7 linked regions of the Homo sapiens genome follow. The protein of the gene in region 6 interacts with the protein of the main gene of each other region in a biochemical or structural test. Each region holds a gene or a part of one and is shown on either strand. Other genes may lie near its edges. The genes, in order: EPN1, MBP, UBXN7, CCDC69, UBAC1, MAP3K1 and APEX2.

Evidence for each region.
Region 1: of the proteins of MAP3K1 (region 6) and EPN1, one has a biochemical effect on the other in vitro, tested with the Homo sapiens proteins (one large-scale study listed by BioGRID).
Region 2: of the proteins of MAP3K1 (region 6) and MBP, one has a biochemical effect on the other in vitro, tested with the Homo sapiens proteins (one study listed by BioGRID).
Region 3: of the proteins of MAP3K1 (region 6) and UBXN7, one has a biochemical effect on the other in vitro, tested with the Homo sapiens proteins (one large-scale study listed by BioGRID).
Region 4: of the proteins of MAP3K1 (region 6) and CCDC69, one has a biochemical effect on the other in vitro, tested with the Homo sapiens proteins (one large-scale study listed by BioGRID).
Region 5: of the proteins of MAP3K1 (region 6) and UBAC1, one has a biochemical effect on the other in vitro, tested with the Homo sapiens proteins (one large-scale study listed by BioGRID).
Region 7: of the proteins of MAP3K1 (region 6) and APEX2, one has a biochemical effect on the other in vitro, tested with the Homo sapiens proteins (one large-scale study listed by BioGRID).

Annotation. Positions count from the first base shown.
Region 1 is NC_000019.10:55,688,726-55,692,225, forward strand, and holds part of EPN1 (epsin-1), read left to right. Parts: intron 1-144; coding exon 145-269; intron 270-571; coding exon 572-646; intron 647-1,141; coding exon 1,142-1,225; intron 1,226-3,028; coding exon 3,029-3,332; intron 3,333-3,500. UniProt on the Homo sapiens protein: Binds to membranes enriched in phosphatidylinositol 4,5-bisphosphate (PtdIns(4,5)P2). Modifies membrane curvature and facilitates the formation of clathrin-coated invaginations. Regulates receptor-mediated endocytosis.
Region 2 is NC_000018.10:76,986,284-76,989,783, forward strand, and holds part of MBP (Golli-MBP), read right to left. Parts: intron 2,630-3,500; coding exon 2,594-2,629; intron 2,245-2,593; coding exon 2,212-2,244; coding exon of another isoform or gene 1,807-2,211; exon of another isoform or gene 1,420-1,806; intron 1-1,419. UniProt on the Homo sapiens protein: The classic group of MBP isoforms (isoform 4-isoform 14) are with PLP the most abundant protein components of the myelin membrane in the CNS. They have a role in both its formation and stabilization.
Region 3 is NC_000003.12:196,347,162-196,349,794, reverse strand, and holds the end of UBXN7 (UBX domain-containing protein 7), read left to right. Parts: 3' UTR 1-2,133; downstream 2,134-2,633. UniProt on the Homo sapiens protein: Ubiquitin-binding adapter that links a subset of NEDD8-associated cullin ring ligases (CRLs) to the segregase VCP/p97, to regulate turnover of their ubiquitination substrates.
Region 4 is NC_000005.10:151,214,093-151,217,592, reverse strand, and holds part of CCDC69 (coiled-coil domain-containing protein 69), read left to right. Parts: intron 1-3,500. UniProt on the Homo sapiens protein: May act as a scaffold to regulate the recruitment and assembly of spindle midzone components. Required for the localization of AURKB and PLK1 to the spindle midzone.
Region 5 is NC_000009.12:135,951,374-135,954,873, reverse strand, and holds part of UBAC1 (ubiquitin-associated domain-containing protein 1), read left to right. Parts: intron 1-1,120; coding exon 1,121-1,194; intron 1,195-3,500.
Region 6 is NC_000005.10:56,818,549-56,822,048, forward strand, and holds part of MAP3K1 (mitogen-activated protein kinase kinase kinase 1), read left to right. Parts: intron 1-1,684; exon of another isoform or gene 1,685-2,197; coding exon of another isoform or gene 2,198-2,268; intron 2,269-3,500. UniProt on the Homo sapiens protein: Component of a protein kinase signal transduction cascade. Activates the ERK and JNK kinase pathways by phosphorylation of MAP2K1 and MAP2K4. May phosphorylate the MAPK8/JNK1 kinase.
Region 7 is NC_000023.11:55,003,363-55,006,459, forward strand, and holds part of APEX2 (DNA-(apurinic or apyrimidinic site) endonuclease 2), read left to right. Parts: intron 1-436; coding exon 437-506; intron 507-3,097. UniProt on the Homo sapiens protein: Functions as a weak apurinic/apyrimidinic (AP) endodeoxyribonuclease in the DNA base excision repair (BER) pathway of DNA lesions induced by oxidative and alkylating agents.

The sequences.
Region 1 (3,500 bases), on a different chromosome or scaffold from region 6:
TCCTAGTCTTGGCCTGCAGAGGTTGTAGGGTGGGGGACTTGGGGGGTGGGGTTGGACACAGAAGCCCCCGTCTGTCTAGGCTATGGGGTTTCCTGTCTCTCGTTCCCTGGTCTGGGTCTCACGCGTTTCTCACCCGCCCTCCAGCCTCATCAGCAGCTGTGGGCTCAGGCCCCCCTCCCGAGGCGGAGCAGGCGTGGCCGCAGAGCAGCGGGGAGGAGGAGCTGCAGCTCCAGCTGGCCCTGGCCATGAGCAAGGAGGAGGCCGACCAGGTACTGGGCGTGCAGCTGGGGCTGTCTGTCCGCCACCCGCCTCCACGCCTCACTTCAGGCTCCCTCCCAGCCAGGCGTGGGCCTGGCCCTCACTGTCGCTGCTCCACATGCTGTCACTCGTCTCCTCCCCAGTCCTGCCTCATCCTCACCCCGCCGTCCCTCTGCGTGTCACTCTCTGCCTGTCCCTCACTGGTTCAGGGACCCCCAGCCCTCTCTTTCTTCGGCTCTATCTGACCCTGGCTCTGCCTCTGACTCTGCCTCTGGCCCCTCCCGTCATGCCCCTCACACTCTCTCTCCCCCAGCCCCCGTCCTGCGGCCCCGAGGACGACGCCCAGCTCCAGCTGGCCCTTAGTTTGAGCCGAGAAGAGCATGATAAGGTCAGAGCAGCCTCCCTGTCCCTGCCCCTGCCAGGGGCTCCCCTCAGACCAGCCCCGTCGCCCCTTCCTAAGTCACCCCCCACCATCCTGCTGGGCCCGAAGCCCACAGGCTCACGCGTGTTGAAACCTCAGTACCTTCAGCCGTAGGATGTAGGACCACAAGTCAGACAGAGCCTGGGTGGTGGCCAGCACAGCTGTGCCAAGGTTGCTCGGGTGACCAGGGTCCCTTCCTCCCCCCAACGCAGGAGATACCACCGAGGCGGGTGCCCGTCCTCCCCGGGTGCGCCAGCACAGCACCCCACTCCCCTTATCCCCTGTCCCGCCTGACCTTTGACCCAGGTGCCCCATCCCCATTTCATACATTGTCCGCATCCCATCGAATCCTTCAGCCGCTTTCGTTGGGGTGGGAGGGGTTGCTGGGGCTTCCAGGCTGAGGTGGCATCTGCCCGTGGCTCACGTTCTCATGTCTCCCTGGTCGTGCCCGTGCCCCAACAGGAGGAGCGGATCCGTCGCGGGGATGACCTGCGGCTGCAGATGGCAATCGAGGAGAGCAAGAGGGAGACTGGGGGCAAGGAGGAGGTGAGCGGGGCTTGTTCTGCCCTCCCTGGCCCCTGCAGGTGTCCGTCCGTCCCATCGCTCATTCCTGCGTGGCCAGGTCCCTGGAGCAGAGACTGAAACACAAGGTCCTGGAGCTGGGCACCGGGTTTCCAGGCTTGGTCGGCCTCTCTGTGCCTCTCCCTCCCTGCTGGGCTGAGGCCGGTGACTGACCAGGCTGCCCTGCGGCCACCTCCTGTGGTCAGCGCTGGCCATCCCCCTTCGGGCTGAGCACCGTGAGGGCCACCACCGGCCGCCACAGCTGAATGGGGAGGCCCAGAATAGGCCAACAGCCTGGCATGGCCACAGGGAGGAGGGTGCAGGGCTCGCCCCATCTGTCACACTTTGTCGGGCACCTCCTTGGTGCCAGGCCGTGTGCTGCACACCCAGGGCCTGTTGGTGAGCGAGGAGGCATGGTCCCGCCCTCGCGAACACTGTTTCTGTGGCGTCCCCATGCTCTGCAGCTGAGTAGCAAACCCTCCCACAACCTTGTGCTTCCAGGTCACGCTTCAGTACTTCCCTGTGACGGGCCCGCTGGCTGGTTGTTTCGTGTCATGGCTGAGGTCACTCATGCCTCTGGGCCCGGGGTGTCCGCACTGGCCTTGCCCTCCAGCCTCCTCCCCTGGCCTCTCCCTGGTTACTAGTCTGTCCTGAGTGTCCTCATAGCACAGTAGCTGCTGCTGCTGCCGCCCCCCAGGACAAGCTCGTCGGGCTGGGTTGGAGTTGCCTCGTCAGCCTGTGCACTGCTATTGGTCTCAGCAGGTCCTGAGGCCAGCCCAAGTTTGAGGGGTGGGGACAAGGCCTCCTCTCCATGGGAGGCGGCAGACAGCTTGTGGCCATAAGTGATCAGGCACAGTGGGACTTTCTTGGTAGACGGAAAGCCTCTTTAGGTTGGCCTCGGCCAGGGGGTCTCTATCAGTGTCCACCACAGCCCAGTGACCCGAGTAAGGGCTGCCCTGCTGGGGGAGCACCAGATCTCACCCATCTCTTCTCCTGCCCTGCCCTGGACTCAGCTCTTCTCCCCTTCCCATCCCCGCCGGGGCCTTTGCCTCACGGGTGCTGACTGGAGATGTGTGCATGAGTATGTTGGGGGCATCTGCACGTTCTGAGACGGGCTCTGGTTAGCTGGGCCCGTCGTGTGCCCACTTCCAGAACACAGGACCATGCATGCGTGTGCGTGCGGCATGGGAAGACCTGCAGTGCGATGACTGCGGGGTGACAGTGGGGCAATGGGCGTGGGAAGGCCTGCAGCGCGATGACTGCGGGGTGACGGCGGGGCAACGTAGGGGGCATCGTGAGGGGTGCTCAGGTTGACCTGAGTGGGTTCATGGGGGGCTTCCCAGGGGAAGGCATGGAGCAGGGGCTGGCCAGTCTGGCTGGAGAAGGCACGGTGGGCAGAGGGAGGATCGAGCTGCTTCGGGTCGAGCGAGGGGAGGGCTTGGCCTCCATCCTCAGTCAGGGCCGGGCAAGGACCTGGGAGCAGGTGGAGTTAAGGGGCTGCCCTGCTGCAGTGTGGAGAATGGATGTGGGGCAGGAGTGGGGCTGTGTTGGGGCTCCCTGGTGGTACCCTCGGGTGGGGTAGGTGGGCAGGGGTGGGCCGACCCCATGACGGATGAGGAGGGAGGCCAGGTGGTGTGTTTGGGGCCTGCCTCCCTCTCACCCCTTATGGATGGCTGCTGTCTGGACACCCAGGGCCTGGCCGCCTCCCCCGCCACGGGCCCCAGCTTGGTCCCTGTCCCAGGCTTCCCACCACTTCTTCATGCTCCTTCTCTTCTCTCTCCCCCACAGTCGTCCCTCATGGACCTTGCTGACGTCTTCACGGCCCCAGCTCCTGCCCCGACCACAGACCCCTGGGGGGGCCCAGCACCCATGGCTGCTGCCGTCCCCACGGCTGCCCCCACCTCGGACCCCTGGGGCGGCCCCCCTGTCCCTCCAGCTGCTGATCCCTGGGGAGGTCCAGCCCCCACGCCGGCCTCTGGGGACCCCTGGAGGCCTGCTGCCCCTGCAGGACCCTCAGTTGACCCTTGGGGTGGGACCCCAGCCCCTGCAGCTGGGGAGGGGCCCACGCCTGATCCATGGGGAAGTTCCGATGGTGAGTGCGTGGCCCACTTGCATGCAGCCCCTACGCCTGTGTGCACCTGTCTTTGGTTGACTGTGCCCTTGGACAGGGACAGATCGAGCCAGTGGCGCCGGGCAGTGGTGGGGCGTCCTGGGTGCAGGGGAGGGGGCAAGGGCGGGGGTCAGATGAGAGCCCAGCACA
Region 2 (3,500 bases), on a different chromosome or scaffold from region 6:
CCAGACTGTCCCTCCTCTATCAGCCTGCAGCCTTTCTTCCATTTCATTAAAGTGTTTTAGGACAGGGAGGACCTTGACCAACCTAGCCCATCTCTTATTTAGAGGTGAGGAAGATGACACCAGAGGCCTCAAGGCTTCCAGAGCACCTGGCTGCACCCTCAGCCTCTGCTGGGGGCTTCCCACCATACAAGCTACTTGCACAGTTTTCTTTTCATTCAGCCTGTGCTTGGGAGTGAGCATGGCCACTCAGAACCAGGCAGCTGCTTTCGTGTGAACAGTTGATTCGGGGGCTATCCAGTGAGGTGAGGGACGGGATGTGTGGCAAGAAGGTCTAAGCACTGCACACGAGGGGACAGCCAGCCTCGCTCTTGCGTCCTAGAGGTTTCCAGGTTCATGCTCACTCCCTGATGGCAGAGGGCAGGTTGCCAGCCTGGCTCTACATGGCAGAAAGCCACTTCCCTGCAAGCGTTAAGTCCTTCTGTCTTACTCTATTGCTTTTCTCCAAAAATAAAGCATTTTTGAGAGCTAAATCCGGGGATTGACTTTCAGATTAACAATCTGCGCGGCCTTTCCTCCTTTCCAATCCTTAGTCATGTTTATCTTTGGGGAACCTAGAATGTACCAGGAAACACACAACACAGCTTAGAAAGAGAAAGTGGGGGCTCTCTGGAACTCCAGACAAGGAGAGAGTCCTGCGGCTCTGGGAAACAGACAAGCAGACAAAATGCAGAGAAGGATTTTGCTTTGGAAAAAAGAGAAATTCAACAGACATTAGTAGGACCCAAAAGGGAGAGATGCAGGGAGGAATGCAAGGGTCTTTCTTGTTAGCTGCTGGGGCAGAACGGCCTGTGTGCAACCCCCCATCGCTCCACATTCAGGGAGGATCCGGCACGACGGCCCCAAAGTCCACTCCTAGAAAATTAAGAGCAGATAAAGCAGTAGCTAAAATAAGATTTCTGGGTCAAAAATGAATTTCATTCTTCTATCATCTTTGTCTCCTGCTGGCATAGAAAATAAAAAATTAATTGTGAGTACTAGTCCATGTACATTTGCTACATGATTGTCATCGTTTTGCAAATTCATTAGGTCAGAAAAAGCAAGTCAAATATGCATTAATGGAAAACGTTTCGGTAAATATCTTAGTTCATAATTCAGTGTAATCATGTGTGGGACTGATCTGGGATCCTCATGGTCTCTCAAGTACCCTGCCCCTTCCTCCCTCTCTTCCTTCCTCTTCCCCACCTTCTGTTTTCTTTCCCTGTTCTTTCTTCCTGTTCTTTCTCCTTGTTGTTTTTCTTTTAAAATGTATTCATTCATTTATATGATGCTTATTAATTGAGCAGAAAGTGTAGGTAGGCTCTGTTCTAGCGTATGAGAGCATTGCAGTTTCGGAGACAGACACAACCTATCTACAATACGTTGGTGGTTATTCCTCCATTTTATTCTAAAATTATAACTTTTATACAGTAAGAATCATATCTGGTATTTGCTAGTAACTAAAGTCTGTAAGTTTGGTTAGAATATAATGATTGGCATTTTAATTTGGCTCAGACACCAAATTTTTTCACTAGAAAGTTCAAATTGGCCATTTTAAACCTTCCTTGAAAGTTTGCTTTCAGTATTAACCAGCCTAAAATTCCTAAGGAAGATTTTCTGGATGGCTTGATATCTATGTTTTAATTATTATTTAAACACATACAAAACAAAAATCTTTGGATTAATGAGGTTATTATAAATCGAGCAACTCTATTTAGCCTCTTTTTCTGTTCATCAGCAGAATCATTTTCCCAGTGTCAGCATCTGGGGTCACTGAGACGGGCCAGCCAGTCCCACTTCCACATGCGGGTTCCTGGGGCTTCTCGCACTGGTTGTGTTGGAGGAAGTTAAACATTTTCTCGGACGTGGTGTTGCTCCCTCCCTGGGAGGGAGACCAGTCACGTCGCCTGGGAACCCTCTGGGAGAAGAGGATCTGGCCTTGCAGGGCTGGGTCCCCGGCACAGAAGCAAGAGACCAGACCTTCCGGAAGGGAAGACCACGTTTCATTTCCCCAGTGGAAGACAAGGCGGCCCGATCCCAGCTGTGGGCAGAGAGGTCTCGAGAGGAGAGAAAAGGAGGCCAGGAAGCAACCGAAACAGAGCAGAACACAAAAGTTGCGGGGCTGTGAGGACTGGGACGGAAGAGGAAGCCGATGGAAGTGCGTTCGTCACCTACCCAGCTAAATCTGCTCAGGGACAGTCCTCTCCCCTGCATGAGGAAGACAGAGAAATAATGACATGGTGGTCAGTGAAGGGAAAGTCCTTTCAATCAACAGGAAACACAGTCAAAGCACAGTGGAGCTGAGGTGGTAAAAACAGGTTCCACCCGGAGCTCCGAGGGGGGCCGCAGGCTCAGGGCCACAGCGGCTGTGCAGGTGCGGGAGGGACAGGAGGGGTGCATGGATCTGCCGACCTGTTCTACTTGGGAGCTGCCTGGCAACACGTTTTGGGATGGATTCTGGTAGCTCGGAGCCTAACTCTCTCTTTGGTACATTATGGGATTTTAGAGAAGGTCTATCAGAAAAGTGATGATCAATCAAAACATTCCAAGGTCTTACCTTTCCCTGCGACGGGGGTGGTGTGCGAGGCGTCACCTGGAAAGACACAGAGAACCGTGGGCTGCACTGGGAGCCCTGTGCCGCCGTCCATTTCCTAACGGGCTCCTGCCTGCTGAGGGTGGCTAGCATCCATCAGCTGCCAGAAGCACCCGGGTGCCCAGCCTCCCCACTTCTGTCCTAGTTGGTGAAGAAGTATAGACCTGAGATTGAAAATATTCTAGATGATGCAGATCTCCCAGAGCACTCAGGAAGTGTTTCAGAGGATGGAAAACACCTCCCAGAGGCTCCGTAGCTGGGGAATGGGCCCATCTTGGGACACTGAGGGAGGCGGCGGACTTTGCTTCACCGTGAGCCCTTTCCGGGGCTAGGAGTAGCGGGCCCTCTGACATTCAGAGCTTCCAAGGGGATGTCCCCAGGTCTGCAGCTCCTAAGTGCACTTATCGAATACGAGCATAAAATGTCTGCTGCACTGAGATCTTGGAATTAGAAGCCTGTGGTTTTGTTCTTGTTTTTAATCGTCTTCGTTTTGCATGGCACTTTTCGGTTTACAGAAAAACTGTGCAGAAATTAGTTTCCACATACCCCGAACAGTTTCCCTTATTAGCAACACTGCCTTAGGGCTCTCTCGGTGCTGTGCACGCTGTGGGTTTGGACAAGTGCGTGGTCTTCAGTCACCATGGCAGCCTCGACAGAGCGGTTTCGCTGCCCGAAAAATGCCCTAAAAATGCCCTGTGCTCTCTCTGCTGCCCCCTCCGCTCCCAGCCCATGGCAAGCACTCTCCATAGGTTGCAAAGCCTGTGTTTTTAGGCTAAGCGTTACATGGGAGCCTAATCTCAAGAGAAGTGAGCTCTCTGGAGAACGCACGGAGCGCACGGTGCAATCCGTGGCAGATACAGTCGGGAAGCGC
Region 3 (2,633 bases), on a different chromosome or scaffold from region 6:
ACATATCAAATCATTAGATAAATTCTGACCTGGAATTGAATTCCCCCTTTCTTAAAATCTTTTTAATTTGCTTTTTTCATAGACTCAGTATGGAACTCTTAACTGATAAGGGAGAGATTCTTGATCTGGAACCGTTCCCTGCCATTCTCCTTTTTTCTCTCTATCTAGGTAGCTGGTTCCATAGTGCCCGTCACGAGGGTCCATTTCAGTTTGATGACATTAGACTGCTTACACTCAGCTGGATGCCTTGCTGTTTGCAGCAACATGATTTTACAGTATGCTTTTCTCAAAGCTTTGCATTCTTAATGGAGATATCAAATGGTGTAATTCCAAATATAAATATGTTTATGACACTAATCATATGCTTTTAACAATAACTTTTTGATAACTTATTGCCCTGTAAGTTAAACCTTACACGGAGTGACTGTTGCCATCAGAAAATCCCCTTTCACCTGCTAGAGAGAGTGAAAGTAGTGCGTGGCCTCCACTTTTCAGTTAACGAGTAGCAAGCTTCTAGTAGGGGCTGCTTATCTGACCCATGTGGGGTCTTGGGCCTTGTTACTTTCCTGGGTTCGTCCCTTCAGCTGGAAAGGCTGTTGAAAACACTTGCCAGGAAACAGTAAAGCTGTGAGAGAATCTTCTAGTCTTAGATATAGAGAAATGAGTACCAGTTGATGCTAACACGATACTTAGACTTTGAGGGGCTTCCATCCAAGCTTTGGCATGAATCTGTTAGACACGGTTTTCTTCACTCCTCTGATAATCTTTTTTTCCAGAATGGTTTTTTGTTGTTGTTGTTGTTAACAAATTCTAAACATCCAGTGTTACTTTTTGTTTTGTTTGTTTTGTTTTGTTTTGTTTTGTTTTGTTTGCCCTTCAGGAAAGTCCTTTTTCGAGTAGGTATTGATTGTTCCCTGGAAACTCTCAGCAGTGTCTGTGCAGGCTCTGTGCATGCTTTGTATGAGTTCGGCTTGAACAATGCATTTGAAGTCACCTGGGATGTCCAGTTCTGGCATGTCTTCATTGATTGTGTTTTTAAACATGTTTCATGTTTCATGTCATTTTCCAAACCTCACTTTACATCTTACTCAGAGAAGTTAATCAAGGAATGAAATTTCTAGGGGGATAGGGATGATGAGGGTGGGTTGGGGGCTTGAGTGAAGTCAACTTGGGGTATTTGCTTTAAAGTGTTTTCTAAAGCAGTTCCTAACAGTATTTAGAGATTCCCTGGGATGTTTGTGGCTCAACTTATTCTGGACAAAGTGTGTGTGGGGGTGGTCTTACTGAGATTTGCATTCTTAATGCAGGACAGGCTCTAAATTTCATCTGTACTCTAAATTTGTGATTGAATCCAAGAAGATAACAGAGACAGTGCTCCTGTTGTAATGTTTCTGGCAAGTGCTCCCTAAAATGCACATCGAATTCTGTTTTCTGGGCCTTTTCTCCAATGGTGCTAGGAGATACCGTTGATTTCTGCAGCTCTTCTCAGTGGTGGGAAGAAGTCTTTGGGATTGTTGAGCAAGGGGCAGCTGGACCATCCACTAAATTTTTTTGTTCAAGACACATTAGAGACCCTCCTGTATATCTAGTAAGTCATAATAAAGGTGCTTGGGAAAGCCTTAAATTTGAAGACACATGGAGGCGGTAGAAAATTAAACTTGTAAGAGGAGAAAAACATGCCATTAGGTAACGCAGAGTTGTAACTACTGGCTAAGACTCAATGGAACTTCCACTTGCTCTAAAACCAGGGAAATCTTAGATAACTGGGTGTGATCTACCTATAGATCTACCTAGTCTATAGGTAATAATTTCCAGAAGGAGGATCTTGCTGTCAGTTGGGGATCCTCTGGTTTGGTCTGTACCAAATTGTGAATACTCTTGCTGTGTTGTACCCAGTTGCTTTATATTAATACTGCAACTTGAAACGGGGAGGGTGGGGGGACAATGGGGTGGGGGAGGGAAGGGAGTGGGACGATAAGTCTTTTGAAGACATCAGCTCACTGTGCTGAGAGAGGGACCAAACTCAAGGAAACCTCTGATCTATACATTCAACTGCTGCATTTTTTTATAAATACATGTAAATGTCCTGTTGTAATATTTGATCTTGGAAATAAAAACAAAAACTTTTCAGTATTAGTTTTTTTTGTGTTGTTGTTTTTACAAGATAAGACTCTGGATATTACTTTCAGTAATACAATTGAGATTCCAAAAGCTTGCCCCCTCACGTTCTCATTTAGGTCAGTTACTATTGATTGACAAAGGTTACTTTGTAGTCCCGTTGTTATGTGTAACGTTTGCTAGCCTTTTTTCTGCTCTTTGTGGTATGTCAAACATTCATGGTAAACACTCTGTAAATATTAGTCCAGTTGTTACAGAAACATTGGGTAAGCTAGGCTTGTTAGGTAAGTATGATTCTGTGTTTGACATACTTGGGCGAATATTCAGTGTCTGTTCTTTCAGACCAGCAGTAATTACTAATGGTTAATTAAGGACTTAGCTTAATTGAAGGAAAGATAATTACTAAATTAATGGGCAAAAAGGAGATACGATTATATGGTATGACAGAAATTGTTATTGCTGCTGGATGCAGTGGCTCATGCATGTAATCCCAGCCCTTTGGGAGGCTGAGATGG
Region 4 (3,500 bases), about 94 Mb from region 6:
CCTCAGAGCCTCCAGAAGAGCCAGCTCGGCTGATACCTTGAATTTACACTTCTAACTTCCAGAACTGTGAGAGAATACATTTCTGTTGTTTTCAGCCACCAAGTGCGTGGTAATTTGTTACAGCAGCTTTAGGAAACTTTCATATCGCAAGGTTAATTGCTCCTTACCCACCCTCTCACCCCCAGCCCCAAGTTGCCAGCAATCAAAAATGACAGCAAGAACCCAGTGCCTCCCTTTGGAACCCATCTTGGCAGCAGAAGAGGCAGCACTGTAAACAAGGAGGTGCCTGGACAGGGCCCATTGCTTTTGGACACCAGCAGCTGCATCTGTAGAGGAAAGAGCACTGGACTGGGAGTCAAGAATGGGGCCTACTTCTTTATATTTTTTATTGATATATAATATTTTACATACTTCTCAGGTACATATGATATTTTGTTAGGTGCATAGACTGTGTAATGATCAAGTCAGGGTATTTGGAGTTTCATCACCTCGAGTATTTATCATTTCTATGTGTTGGGAACGTTTCAAGTCCTCTCTTCTAGCTATTTTAAAGTATACAGTTCATGGTTGCTATGGAACATTAGAATGTAGTCCTTCCATCTGGCTGTATGTTTGTATCGTTTGACCAGCCTTTCTTCATTCCCCGCACCCCACACACACGTCCTTCCCAACCTCTGGTATTCATCATTCTAACAATGGGTCCACTTCTGCCTCTTTTGCTAACTATTCTCTTCCCCAGCCTTGATTTCTCTGTCTGTACCTTGACTCTGGGGGAGGCTTTCAGGTTCCAAGAGAGGTACCTTTTTCTTGTTGTTGTTAATTTCTTTGTATATAAGTAATTCTTGAATGCGTTGTTGCTTTAAAAATCCTAAGAATTGGCCAGGCGTGGTGGCTCACGCCTGTAATCCCTGCACTTTGGGAGACTGAGGCGGGCGGATCACCTGAGGTCAGGAGTTTGAGACCAGCCTGACCAACATGGTGAAACCCCGTCTCTACTAAAAATACAAAAATTAGCCGGGCGTGTGGCACGTGCCTGTAATCTCAGCTACCCAGGAGGCTGAGGCAGGAGAATCGCTGGAACCTGGGAGGCAGAGGCTGCAGCGAGCCGAGATCGCACCACTGCACACCACTCGCTCTAGGTGACAGAGCAAGACTCAGTCTCAAAAAAAAAAAAAAAAAAAAAAAATCCTAATAATTTAGGTAAAATGTAAAATGGAAGCTACCCTTCCTTGACCACAGTAATTTTAGTCCATTCTCTGGAGATGACAACTGTTATCAGTTTGTGCTTTTCTAGGTACTTTTTCCTATGCATTTTTTTATCATTAGTAATAGTTGGCCGGGCATGGTGGCTCACGCCTGTAATCCCAGCACTTTGGGAGGCTAAGGCGGGCAGATCACCTGAGGTCAGGAGTTCAAGATCAGCTTGGTCAACATGGTAAAACCCTGTCTCTACTAAAAATACAAAAATTAGCTGGGCATGGTGGCACATGCCTGTAGTCCCAGTTACTGGGGAGGCTGAGGCAGGAGAATTGCTTGAACCTGGGAGGTGGACGTTGCAGTGAGCCAAGAATACACCACTGCACTCCAGCCTGGGTGACAGAAAAGAAATAGTTTAGTTTGGATATTGGTATTTTACCAAATGCCTTTCCATCTTTGTACATAAAGGTCTACTTCACTCTCTTAAACATATGAATGAAATGACATAGTATTATGTCCCTGAGTATATCCAGCCAGTCCTCAGTTTACAGCATTTCCCTACTGCAAATGGTCCTGCCCTGAGCATCCTGTGCATCCTCCTTGTCCTCACTAATGGGTACTTATTTCTGTTCACAGTGCTACTGTAGAATTAGGAGCATGCTGCGTGCAACTTGGGAGATGGCTGAGCTCTGTCATTCTCTGCTTTCAGGCAATCCCGCCCTCTCTTTTACAACCACCCTTACACTGTCTGCTGAAGAACAGGGGATGGTGTGGAGGGCTCCAGGTTCTCACCCAGGCCTCCTGAGCAAGGGACCCTCCTTTCCTGCTCTCCAGAGAAGCCCCCTCCATGACCAGAGCTAACAGCTGAGTGTGTCAAACTGCCTCTGCCCTGCCCAGAGCAAACAAGCCGGACAGGATCGACAGAAGATGAGATAGCAAGATGACCTCACTCTGCCCCTTCTTCCCCATCCACAGCATGTCAAAACCAGAAGGGCTCTTACGTATCCCATTGCACAATTCCATGCCATGCAGAGGAGGGTACAGAAGCACAGAAAAGGAAGAGTGTCCACTCAAGGTCACACAGCAAGCAGATGGCAAGCTAGGACCTTGGCTCTGGACTCTCAATTTGCCATTGGACTGTGAGACAGGTATCCAGGCGCTCAGCCTCAGATGGCAAGCTAGGACCTTGGCTCTGGCCTTCCAGTTTGCCATTGGACTGGGAGACAGGTATCTGGGCCCTCAGCCTGTCTCTTTCCCCACCCCCATCCAGCTACTGACACCATTTTCTGTCCAGCTCCTTCAGGGTCCTGCCTGCCAGGCTGACCCAAATGCTAGAAATAATGTCTAGTGCTTTTGCCAGCTCCAGGCCCTCTGAGGCAACCAGAACTAGCAGACACCCTGGGAAGCTGATATGGGACAAGAAAACGGGAGCCCTAGGGAGGAAGAAAATAAATAAGGTGTATTAGAAAGGCTTTCTCTAGGCCTCAGTGTCATCGTCTGTGAAGTGAGGCCTTGCACTCAAGGCCCTTCTGATGCTTGTCTGCTGTGGTCTGGCTCACCAGGTGCAGGGGTATTTAAGAAGGAAGTGGTCCTTTGCTCCCCTGAGACACCTCATCAGTTGGTCAGATAGGAGCAGTGGAGACCACATCCGCCCCTGACTTGTGTGCTCTGGGGGTCCTGCAGGTGTTCAGAGCATAGGCCGTGTCCCCGGTGCAGCGGAGTGGTGCAGCCTGGCACTTCTAACTTTAAGTTGGTTGTACAATCACATTGGACTGTCCTCCAGCCAGTGAGGAAATGTTGACCACACACTATATGATATGAAGGGGATGAATTAAATCTTTAATGTCCCTGGCAGTGTTTGAGTTTCAATGACATCAAATTCAGGCATTACTTTGGCAGAATATCTCTGCCCATCTTAGAGATGGGGAGGCTAAGGCCTGTATTTATGGTGTTCTGTCTGAGCTTCTGTAATTCGGGTGTGAACACTAACATTTCTCAACAGCCCTGATCATTTAGGCCCCGCCCTTCCTCCCCGAAGGCCCTGGAGTGGGGCCCCTTGGGCCACACTCCCCGCCTCCTTCCTGCCTCTACCCTCGGCCAATAGGCTCTGACTGTGGTTACTTAGATCCCAGCACTAGTGGTGCTGGGCCAGACACCGGAAAGGCAGCTCTGATATTGAGGAGGGTGTGACCTGAGCCCCTTGAGACTTAGAATCACCTCTCCCCTACAGGCTCAGCTACTCAGATAAAGCTGACCCTGGCATCAGGGGGACGGAAAGGACTCTAGCCTCAGCTGTGAGTCTG
Region 5 (3,500 bases), on a different chromosome or scaffold from region 6:
CATTCAAATAATGCCTTTAATTGTGGAAGTCCTTGAAGTAAGCTGTTTTGAAAATCCTGGAAGTATTGCTAACAGATATCCGCTGAGATGACCATCAAGCTCCAAGCCAGTGGGGGATGGGCACCGTCGTGGGCCGAGGATGAGCTGCATCTCAGGTTTTGACCTCTGAGGGTTAAGACTAAACTCTCCACCCTCACAGACTTTTTCAGAACTGAGCCGGTTAAAATGCCTGTTGCAGGATTGTCACCAATTCTTTGCACAATTATTGGGGCCGTGCTGTGCCTGCCTCCTGGGCCATGGGTCACCTGGGGGTTCGTGCCAGGCCTGGGAGCTTGTACCTCAGCTAGGGCCATGCAGATATCATGCAAAAGTGAGGGAAGGCTGGTGTAGATGCTTGGTTTGGGGGGACCAAAGGAACCCATGCTCTTTTGAGACAGGGTGTCGCTCAGTCACCCAGGCTGGAGTGCAGAGGCACAGTCAGGCTCACTGTTGCCTTGACCTCCTGGGCTCAAGCAGTCCTCCCACCTCAGTCTCCCAAGTAGCTGGGACTACGGGCATGTGCCACCATGCGCAACTATTTTTTATATTTTCGTAGAGATGGGGTCTCGCCATGTTGTCCAGGCTGGTCTTGAACTCCTGGGCTCAAGTGATCCGCCTGCCTCGTGCTGGGATTACAGGAGTGAGCCACTGCACCCAGCTGAAGCCCTGCTCTTCTTCTTTTTTTTTTTTTTTTTTAAGATGAAGTCTTGCTCTGTTGCCCAGGCTGGAGTGCAGTGGTGCAATCTTGGCTCAGTGCAACCTCCGCCTCCCAGGTTCAAGTGATTCTCCTGCCTCAGCCTCCCCAGTAGCTGGGATTACAGGCATGCGCCACCACGCCTGGCTAATTTTTGTATTTTTAGTAGAGATGGGGTTTCACCGTGTTGGCCAGGCTTGTCTTGAACACCTGACCTCAGGTAATTTGCCCGCCTCAGCCTCCCAAAGTGCTGGGATTACAGATGGGAGCCACTGCGCCCGGCCGAATCCCTGCTGTTCTGTTCTCAGGGCATCCAGCACCCTTTATGCCATTTTGTGGATATGAAGTGATAACCAGTGTGTTGGATATACGTGTTGTTTTTTCTAGATGTCCTATTATTGATAAAAAAGCGTGCTCCATCACCACTTCCCAAGATGGCTGATGTCTCAGCAGAAGAAAAGGTAAATTTCAAAGTTTGCAATTGGGGACCTTGGTTGGTAGAAGTCTACATTTAAGAATTACAGGCTGGGTACAGTGGCTCGCGCCTGTAATCCCAGCACTTTGGGAGGCCGAGGCGGGTGGATCACGAGGTCAAGAGATCAAGACCATCCTGGCAAATATGGTGAAACCCCGGCTCTACTAAAAATACAAAAAAAATTAGCTGGGCATGGTGGCTCATGCCTGTAGTCCCAGCAGCTCAGGAGGCTGAGGCAGGAGAATCTCTTGAACCCGGGAGGCAGAGGTTGCAGTGAGCCGAGATCGTGCCACTGCACTCCAGCCTGGCGACAGAGTAAGACTCCATCTCAAAATTAAATAAATAAATACAAACTTAAAAAAAAAAGAATTATAAAGAAGTTCTCTATACTAGTTGTTCACCAACCCACGCATTCGCCATTTACAGTAGATGTGGTTATAAGGGGTTCTCTCTCCCGGCAGAGCCTGTTTAATCCGTGTCAGTCCTGGTCCCTCCCTGCTCACGGGACCAGCACGGAAAACCTGCCTCTGAGTTTTCTGAGACAGAGAGGAGGGTAGGGACACATCCTGCGTGACGGTTCACTCCCGCGCTGCTGTCCGCCTTCACCTGCGTGTGCTCCTGTTCCCTCCTCTTTTCAAGCAGCCAAGTCAGTCCTGACAGAAAAACGGAGGAAAGTGGGTAACCAACCACCACACAGAATAAGGGCTGCGCATGCAGAGAGTGGCCGGTGAGGGAGCACTCGCGACAAGCCCCACCTCACACCGCACAGCCTCAGCATCCCCATCGGAAAATCCAAACGCAGAAATGCAGCGCAGTCTGAAACTTTTTGAGTGCCAAAATGACACTTAATGGAAGTGCTCGTTGGTGCTTTTTGAGTTGATTATTTGGAATGCAAATATTCCCAAATCTGAAAAAACCCGAAATCCGAAACAGTTCTGGTCCCGGGCATTTCAGATGAGGGATACTCAGCTGCACTGTTAATGCTGAGAGAGGCTGAGTTCTGCCTGTCTTGTCTATTTCTTGCAAAACAGAACTGGATGTCGTTGGTGTTTACATTCACTCACACGTTATTGATTCATGGTCTGCACCGTCCACTTGCACGTGTACCTTAGGAACACCGTGCAGTGTGTTGTTTACTGGCTGCCCTAGAAGCTCATGTTTTGGAAAGCTCACTGAGCAGAGGAAGATGCGTTCTGCAAGTGGCGTGTCCTACCCCACAGCAGGGCCTGAGCCCGTGCCGAGCATGGAGCCTGCCAGCTAGAAGGGCAGCCACTTTCCTCTGCTGTCTTTGCATTACTCATCTCAAGGGTAGAATTTCTTACTCGTGCTTTGAAAGGCTAAGGAGAGTGTTCACCCCAGAGAAAGAGCAGGTCAAACTCTTTTGGGCTAGGCCCATGCCTGGTAGTGCATAAGCTATTTTTGGGTTTCATCTGGGACCATGGGTACCCAGGAAGAGCACCCTGGGCTTGGGTCCCCTCCTTATCTTCAGCCACACCTGGCCACGCATGAGTGACACACAGGCTGCCGCCCCACCCATCTGCAGCGGACAGATCTGGGCCTGCCTCCGCCTGTCCCTGAGTCAGGCCTGTTTCTGGGAACTGCTGCAGGCAGCATTCACAGTTCTCAGATTACAGTTTGACCGTTGGTGTTCAGACTTACAGGCCCGTAACTAATATAAACAGCGGGGTCTGACCATACACCCGTTGCCCCACAGCCTCTTGGATGGGTAGCTTGGAGCTAACCTGAGGAGCTTACCTTTTCTCTTCAAATATTTGCAAACTGAAACATTGTAAGATGTCAGTTCATATTTTTATGAATTAATTATTATTATTTTTATTATTATTTTATTATTTTTGAGACAGAGTTTCGCTTTTGTTACCCAAGCTAGAGTGCAGTGGCGTGATCTCAGCTCACTGCAACCTCCGCCTTCCAGGTTCAAACGATTCTCCTGCCTCAGCCTCCCAAGTAGCTGGGGTTACAAGTGCGTGCCACCACGCCCGGCTAATCTTTTGTATTTTTAGTAGAGATGGGGTTTCACCATGTTGGCCAGGCTGGTCTCGATCTCCTGACCTCGGGTGATCCACCTGCCTCGGCCTCCCAAAGTGCTAGGATTACAGGCATGAGCCATTGCGCCTGGCCTACATTAATTTTTAATTTAGTTTTTGTTTTTGTTTTAGAGACAGGATCTCACTCTGTTGCCCAGGCTGCAGTGCAGTGGTACAATTATAACTCACTGCAACCTTGACCTCCTGGGCTCAAGCAGTCCTCCTGCCTCAGCCTCCCGAGTAGCTG
Region 6 (3,500 bases):
AGTTTGTCCCTCTTTTTCAGGGTGATAGCTGAAATCAGTGAAAGTGCCTGTAAGTGGCGCCCAAGGGTTTGGAATTTTTCCTTATATTACAGAATTTAGGGGCTTTTTCTTCCTATTTACTGTCTTTGAAGAAAAATTACAGTGTTACTCTCCATTGAACAGCCTATTGTGAGTTTGGTAGATATAATTACCCCATCCTATTTTTGTAACTTAAAAAACCAAACTATCAATTTGCTGGCCCCGTGAAAGAACAAGATATGCTGTACTTGTTAATGTTAGTTTTTGTTTAAAACTAAAGGTATTTCACAGGCTGCTTTTATATCCTCATATAGCCCTCAGATTTCACTTCCTTTTTAAAGCTATTAGGCTAAAAATATGATTTAGTGACCTTTTACTAAAGAGGAGGTATAAGAGCATTATTACCTAAAAATTACTCTTAAAATATTAAGTGGGTGACTTTATAAAAATAAAGGTAGTCACATAAGTTAGTCTTCCGTGAATTTGTAAGTTTTTAGTTAAGAATGGTGTCAGTTTCATTTTAAATCAGATAAGAAAATTAATGCATTCTTCAAAGATGAACCTTAATATAATTCTGGAAGAGAAATATAAGAGCTAGAATTGTTGCCAACTTTTATTTTCTTTTCATATCTGATTTTGGCAAGAGTGACTGGTTAACCAACATTCCTTAATATACGATTTCCAATGCACTAAAACTCCATTTTGTTAGATACGAAAAACAGGAAGTAGCCCTGTTCATTGATATTCATTTACAACTTCCATAGCACCTCGAGCATAATATGTTGCATATTTTAGAAATGGCCACTGACTTGTCAACTTGCAGATTTCAAAATGTGGGAAGAAAGGAGTGTTTTTTTGCTTTCAACAAGAGCAAAAAAAAAACCAGCTACAGCTTGCCTAGGCTGAGTCGGCTAATCAGTCCTTGACACTGGCTGTGTGCATCCCAAAGGAAGAAATGAGGGGGTGGCAAGGTAGTTAATGGGGAATGGATTACCATGAGGAAAAATATGGGGCATTCAGAAATGCTCTCAGGTAGAAAGCACCTCTTTTGCATTTTGTACTCCAGTCATCTTCTTGGGTTGAGGGCTGTCTGTTACACAGAAGGCGATGGGAAAATGTGTCATGGAAAAGTAGTAGTCTCTAGAGGCTGCTTAGGAACTGCGTGTATATTACACCTCTAATCTTGGAATTCTTTGCTTCTATCAAATATATCAAGTATAGACTTGGTTGTTTTCCTTAGTCCTTGCCTCTTTCTATATCCTAAGTTAAAAGCTAAAGCAACTTAAACATGTAAATGGTAGACTATTAATGTGAGGAAATGTGTAAGATTAGGAGTAACCCAAAGTTGTCTTTAAGAAATTATTTAAGAACATGTTTAATCATGAAAGAAATAATCAGGGCCGGAATTAGTAAATGGTTCATTGCAAAGCATGAGATTAGTCAGATACTCTTTTCAGTTTGCAAAAATATATTAGGATTTTATCTGTGGCTTAAAACATACTCATTGAGCATATAGATATGCCTAGATACCTTTTACATAATCAACTCTTTTGCCTTCTGTGTGTGTGTATGATATCTATTATATGTATTATATATATGTTTATATATAATCTCATTTGATCATCACTGCAGCCCCCTAAGATAGTGTAATTTCTGTTTTCTGTAGGTGCAAACTCATCTGAGATGGTAAAACCTCATGATTACACAACTAGAAGACAGCTAGGATTCAATCCCAAGTCAGACTGACTCCACAGTCCATTTCTTTCCACTACTCTGCTTCTTCCATTTTCTTTTTTCAAATTAATAATCAAATTAATTGATTATTTTTAAGGAGAAATTTGTTTTGCAGGCATTCTAATAGACCATGAGCTAGGTCTCTACCCTGTGCTAAGTTTGCCTGTTAATGTATATAATAGGTATGTTTCTGTAACCTGGCCTTGTATATGTAATACAAGTAAACTGTATTTGGATCACCCTATCATGTCAGCCAAAGAGGGTTAGTCATTAGTGTTGAATGTTTCTTAGATTTATTGATTTGTGCTGTATTAAATCATAAGTGAAAGGAGATAAGCTGAAATTAATATGGTTCATTCATGGTAATCACACAGGAAGAGAAACTTTTACTATTGCTAGACCCTACCCCTTTGTTATTGTTTTAGATTTCATCCATTCAACATTTATGAACTTCTGCAAGGTGGTGGTCTTGAGTGGTGGAGAAAAAGATCATGAGTGCACAAGCTGTTTCTGTCGGTAGGTTGTAGTATGAACATGTTTCACAATACCGTGTTAAGTGCTATAAGAGAGATGGGGATACAGAGGGGATACAACATATTAGTTTCAAACTATTTCTGCCTATTTTCTGATAAGAATATATACAACACTGCATGTTCAGGCATGTTTTTTTTTCTTCCAAGGGAAAATTAAAAAGGAGATACGGGGAGCAAGAAATTCAACATCTGCTACTGCTAGTTCTGAAATTCTGTCTTTATTATTAGTAACAGCAACTCTACTAGTTACGAAAACAACATGGAGAAATATAAAATATTCTTTAGGGCATAAGATGATCAAGAAGATAGCCTTGTCTTTATTTACTCTATGGCATGTCATTGGTGATTGAGTTATGTTTGGTATGGAAGGGAGTTCTGTATTGTTAGTGATTGAGTCCTTTGGAATACCAGGCTGGTTTGATGCAGATGTTAATTTGATCGAGATGTGGAGATGTTGTAGCATACTAAGGGGAATTGTTAAAACTCACCAAGTGTATAATTCTGCAAGTACACATCTGTCACCTGGGAATTACTAAGCCACCAGACCTCTTGAAGCCTGGAGAAAGTGCTTGGAGCCACATGGGACAGCCTACACAGTACTGTAGTTAGTACGTTAACTAAGTTCATCACTTGTAAGCATAATGATGGATAGACATGGAGTGAGAACAGGGTCAGTACTGGGGTGTAGGTGGAAGCTTTGCTCTTGACAGATGTTATCATTACTTTTCTTTTTTTATTTTTAAATTAGAAATGGGTTCTCACTATGTTGCCCAGGCTGGAATCGAACTCCTGGGCTCAGGTGATCTTTCCACATAGCTGGAACTATGGGTGCAAGCCACTGTGTCTGGCTTTACTTTTCTTCATTGCCTAAACAATAATTTAAGTTATATGTTAACACATAATCTTCAAACTGGTCTTATGGTATTCTGAATACTAAACATCAGTTGTTAACAGACCAGGAACTTTATCTGATTCTTTGCACCATCTCCCAGCATCTAGACTAGTGTCTGGCACCCATGAATATTAGGTACCCAGAAATGTTAACATGAATTAATTTTCCAAAAGTGGTTAAATTAGTATATCTGAAGATTAACTTACTGTAGTGAGATTTTAATCATGATCTAGCTTAAGACGAGTTTTGAAGGCAAGAACTGTCTTTTTTTAGGAGTTTTTGTATATCGTTTGGTATTTATTTATTTATTTTTGAGACGGAGT
Region 7 (3,097 bases), on a different chromosome or scaffold from region 6:
CAAATGAATATATGAATCTCTACCCTACACAATAGTTTTAAGGGTAAAATGAGATGAGAATGGTAAAGTGCGTGGGAGCAAAGGAAAGTCTTGTTCCAGCGGAGGACAGGAAAGTGAGGGTGGGTTAGAGCAATCAAGGGGAGGTGGTATCTGAGCTCAGCTTTGAAGGACAAGAAAAATGCCCATTGGCTCCTGATTAGTGAGGCAGTCATGTCAAACATGGAACACTGTCACCTTTGGAGATCAGAATTGGGTTGGTCAGATATGAAAGGCAGCAAGTTTGTGGTAAGATTGGAGAGGTAGGCTGTTATGAGTTGCTGTTGGCTAGGAAGCCTCAATATGGGAGAGGGCCTGTCTGAGCTCTTGGGCCCAGGAAAAAGTATATGGGCCAGGACTGCTGCACCCCTTTCTAACAATCCCACATTGTGTTTTTCAGCCATGTGATCATTCTGGGTGACCTGAATACAGCCCACCGCCCCATTGACCACTGGGATGCAGTCAACCTGGTAAGGCTCCCTCTAGGTGCCTGGCCCCACTCCTGACTGATTCTGTTTGTCCAGCCAACCAACCCTGAGTTTTTGGCCCAGGGACAGCTTCCTTTATGGGAAAGCGGAGCTTGGCTTGCAATACTATTCTTATAGTACTGAGGATTGGTCATTCATTCAATAGACAATACTGACTCTGCCCATGGCCTGGCCCTGAGCCACATACTGAGGACTCAGGAGTCAGATCCAGCCCTTGGCTCCTAGGAGCTCTCCAGCATGGTGGTGGGCTACAGACACATGGCTAGCCAATTATAGGATGGTATTCTCAGGGCAGAGGCACAGATGGCATCCCAGAAAGCTACAGGAGCTCAGAGATGGGATTCCTAGGTGAGCTCGGACATCAGGACAGGCAGCTGAAAATGGCTGAATCTTAACAGATGAGTAGAACAGAGCTTTGAAGTAGAAAGCATTCTAGCATGGGCAAAGGTTTCAAGGTGAGAATTTGCATTGTGTGCATGGGGAACCACAAGTCCCTTTCTTCTTAGTGACACAGGAAGGGAGGTGAGTGGCAGAAGGTGGGGCTGGAGAGTTGTTGGGGGTCAGATTTCAAGGACTGTGAATTCCACATTGCCTTGGTCATTTCCTTAATACACTGTATTTCTTGTTTATGAACTTTCAGTACCTCCCTGTTACCTCTGTGATGCAGAGAAAACATGGAGACCTAGCATTCAAGGCTCTCCTTGGTCTGTGACCTGTCTCTTATTTCCACCTTCAGTGTCCCTACACATTTTGTCCTCTCTAGACAGGTTGTCTCCTGTCGGCCCGTTGTAAAAGTTATTCTCATTCTGGCTTTTCTCACTGTGCCCTGAATTGGTGGACATGACCCCCTCCCTGTCTTTTTGTTATATGAACCTCTTATCTCTAAGTTCCCCTAGGCCCATGGTTTTCAGCCCCTAACTGCATATTAGAACAAAAATATCAATATCTTAGCACTACTCCAGATCAATGAACTCAGAACTCTCGAGTGTGGGGCCAGGGTAGTGGCACGTTCTAAAAGCCCCCAGTGTGACTTTATTGTGCAGCCAGGCTTGAGAACCACTGCCCTAGAATCCACAAGCCAGCTCTCATCTTTTCTTGCCTTATGTCTCACGATGGGGGATCAGTGATTTATGCTGGTACAGTCCTACTCAGCACTGGGCTTGGCTTAGAGAAGGGACCGTGGGAATATTCCTTGATTAATTCACAGAAGAGCTACATAAATGTAGATATGGCTCCCAGCTGGGAAAATGAGCAGAAGTGAGAGAATGAGAGAATGGTGGTGGTGGTGTGGTGGGGAGCGGAGATAATGCTACAAAGTGTGAGCCTTCAGTCCCTCCCTGCCTCATTCCTCTTATGCATTCATTCAGTGTGTTCTTTCAGATTCCTGTGATAGCATCATACATCTTTGTGCCTTTTCTACTTAGTTCAGAGGTATCCTAGATCTCTTATGTATACCTCTTTCATTTTCTCCTCCAGGAAAAGAGAACTAATAGTGCCAGCTCAGATGACTTACACAGTCTTTCCAAAATAGCAGAACATACCCACTTTCTACCAGGCTTGCTCTTTTAGTCTTGTCATTTCTGTAAATGGCACCATCATCCCCTTGATTGCTTCAACTTAAAGCCTGGGAATTGTGCTAGTATTGTCTTTCTTTCTTACTCCACTTCCCACATTCAGTTAGTCAGCAAGTACTGTTGATTCTAGCTACAAATCATCTCATAATTTCATGTTTCTGTCTCCTCTGGCACCCACCCTAGTCCAAGTGACCATCATCTTGCTTGTGTGACTATGGCAGCCATTTCCTGCTGGTATTCTGGTCTCCAGTCTGGTCTTTCCTCAAGTCTTTTGGGTACGCAGCACACTCCCTCCACAGGCCCAGCACAGAGACTGTTCTTAAAGTTAGGAGCACCCTCCACCTAGGTTACTCTTACTCAGCCCCCACACCTCAGCTCCAGATCACTTCTCGAAAGGAAGCCTCCTTGGTCCCCAGGAGTAGATCAGGTTCCTACTTTGTCCCTGGCATCATGCATGGCACATAATAGGTATTCCATGAACATTTCTTGCATTGAATGAGTGGGTGGGTAGGTGGATTGAATGGATGGACTGATGGATGATGGATTGGGGATCAGAGCCTAAGGAAGTATTCAGACCTGGATCCTTGCAGGTCCTCAGCTCAGGAGGTAGGAATGGTCATTGAGGGCTTTGACACACTAGATAAACCAAATAGTGCCAGAGGGTTTAAAGGAAGAAGCTGACAGTCTTCCTAACTCTTAACCCCAGCCCTGCTTCCTAGAGGCAAACACTTTTAACTTCCTGTTTTCCATCCTTTTGAAAAGCAGTTCCAGGAATTGCTTTGAGTAAGCAAACTTTCAGATTTGCCATTGACGGACCAATGCAAGACAAATGCAAGCTCGTGCAGAGGGAAAAACAAGCATGGTCTTTTAAATCAGTAAGGATGAAAATCAGAATCCCAGCTCTGCCAATTCCGGACTGTGTGACCTTGAGCAGTAGTCCTCTTGGGACAACCAAATTTTCTTATTTGCAAAATGCAGCAGTTAGTCTAAGTCCCTTCC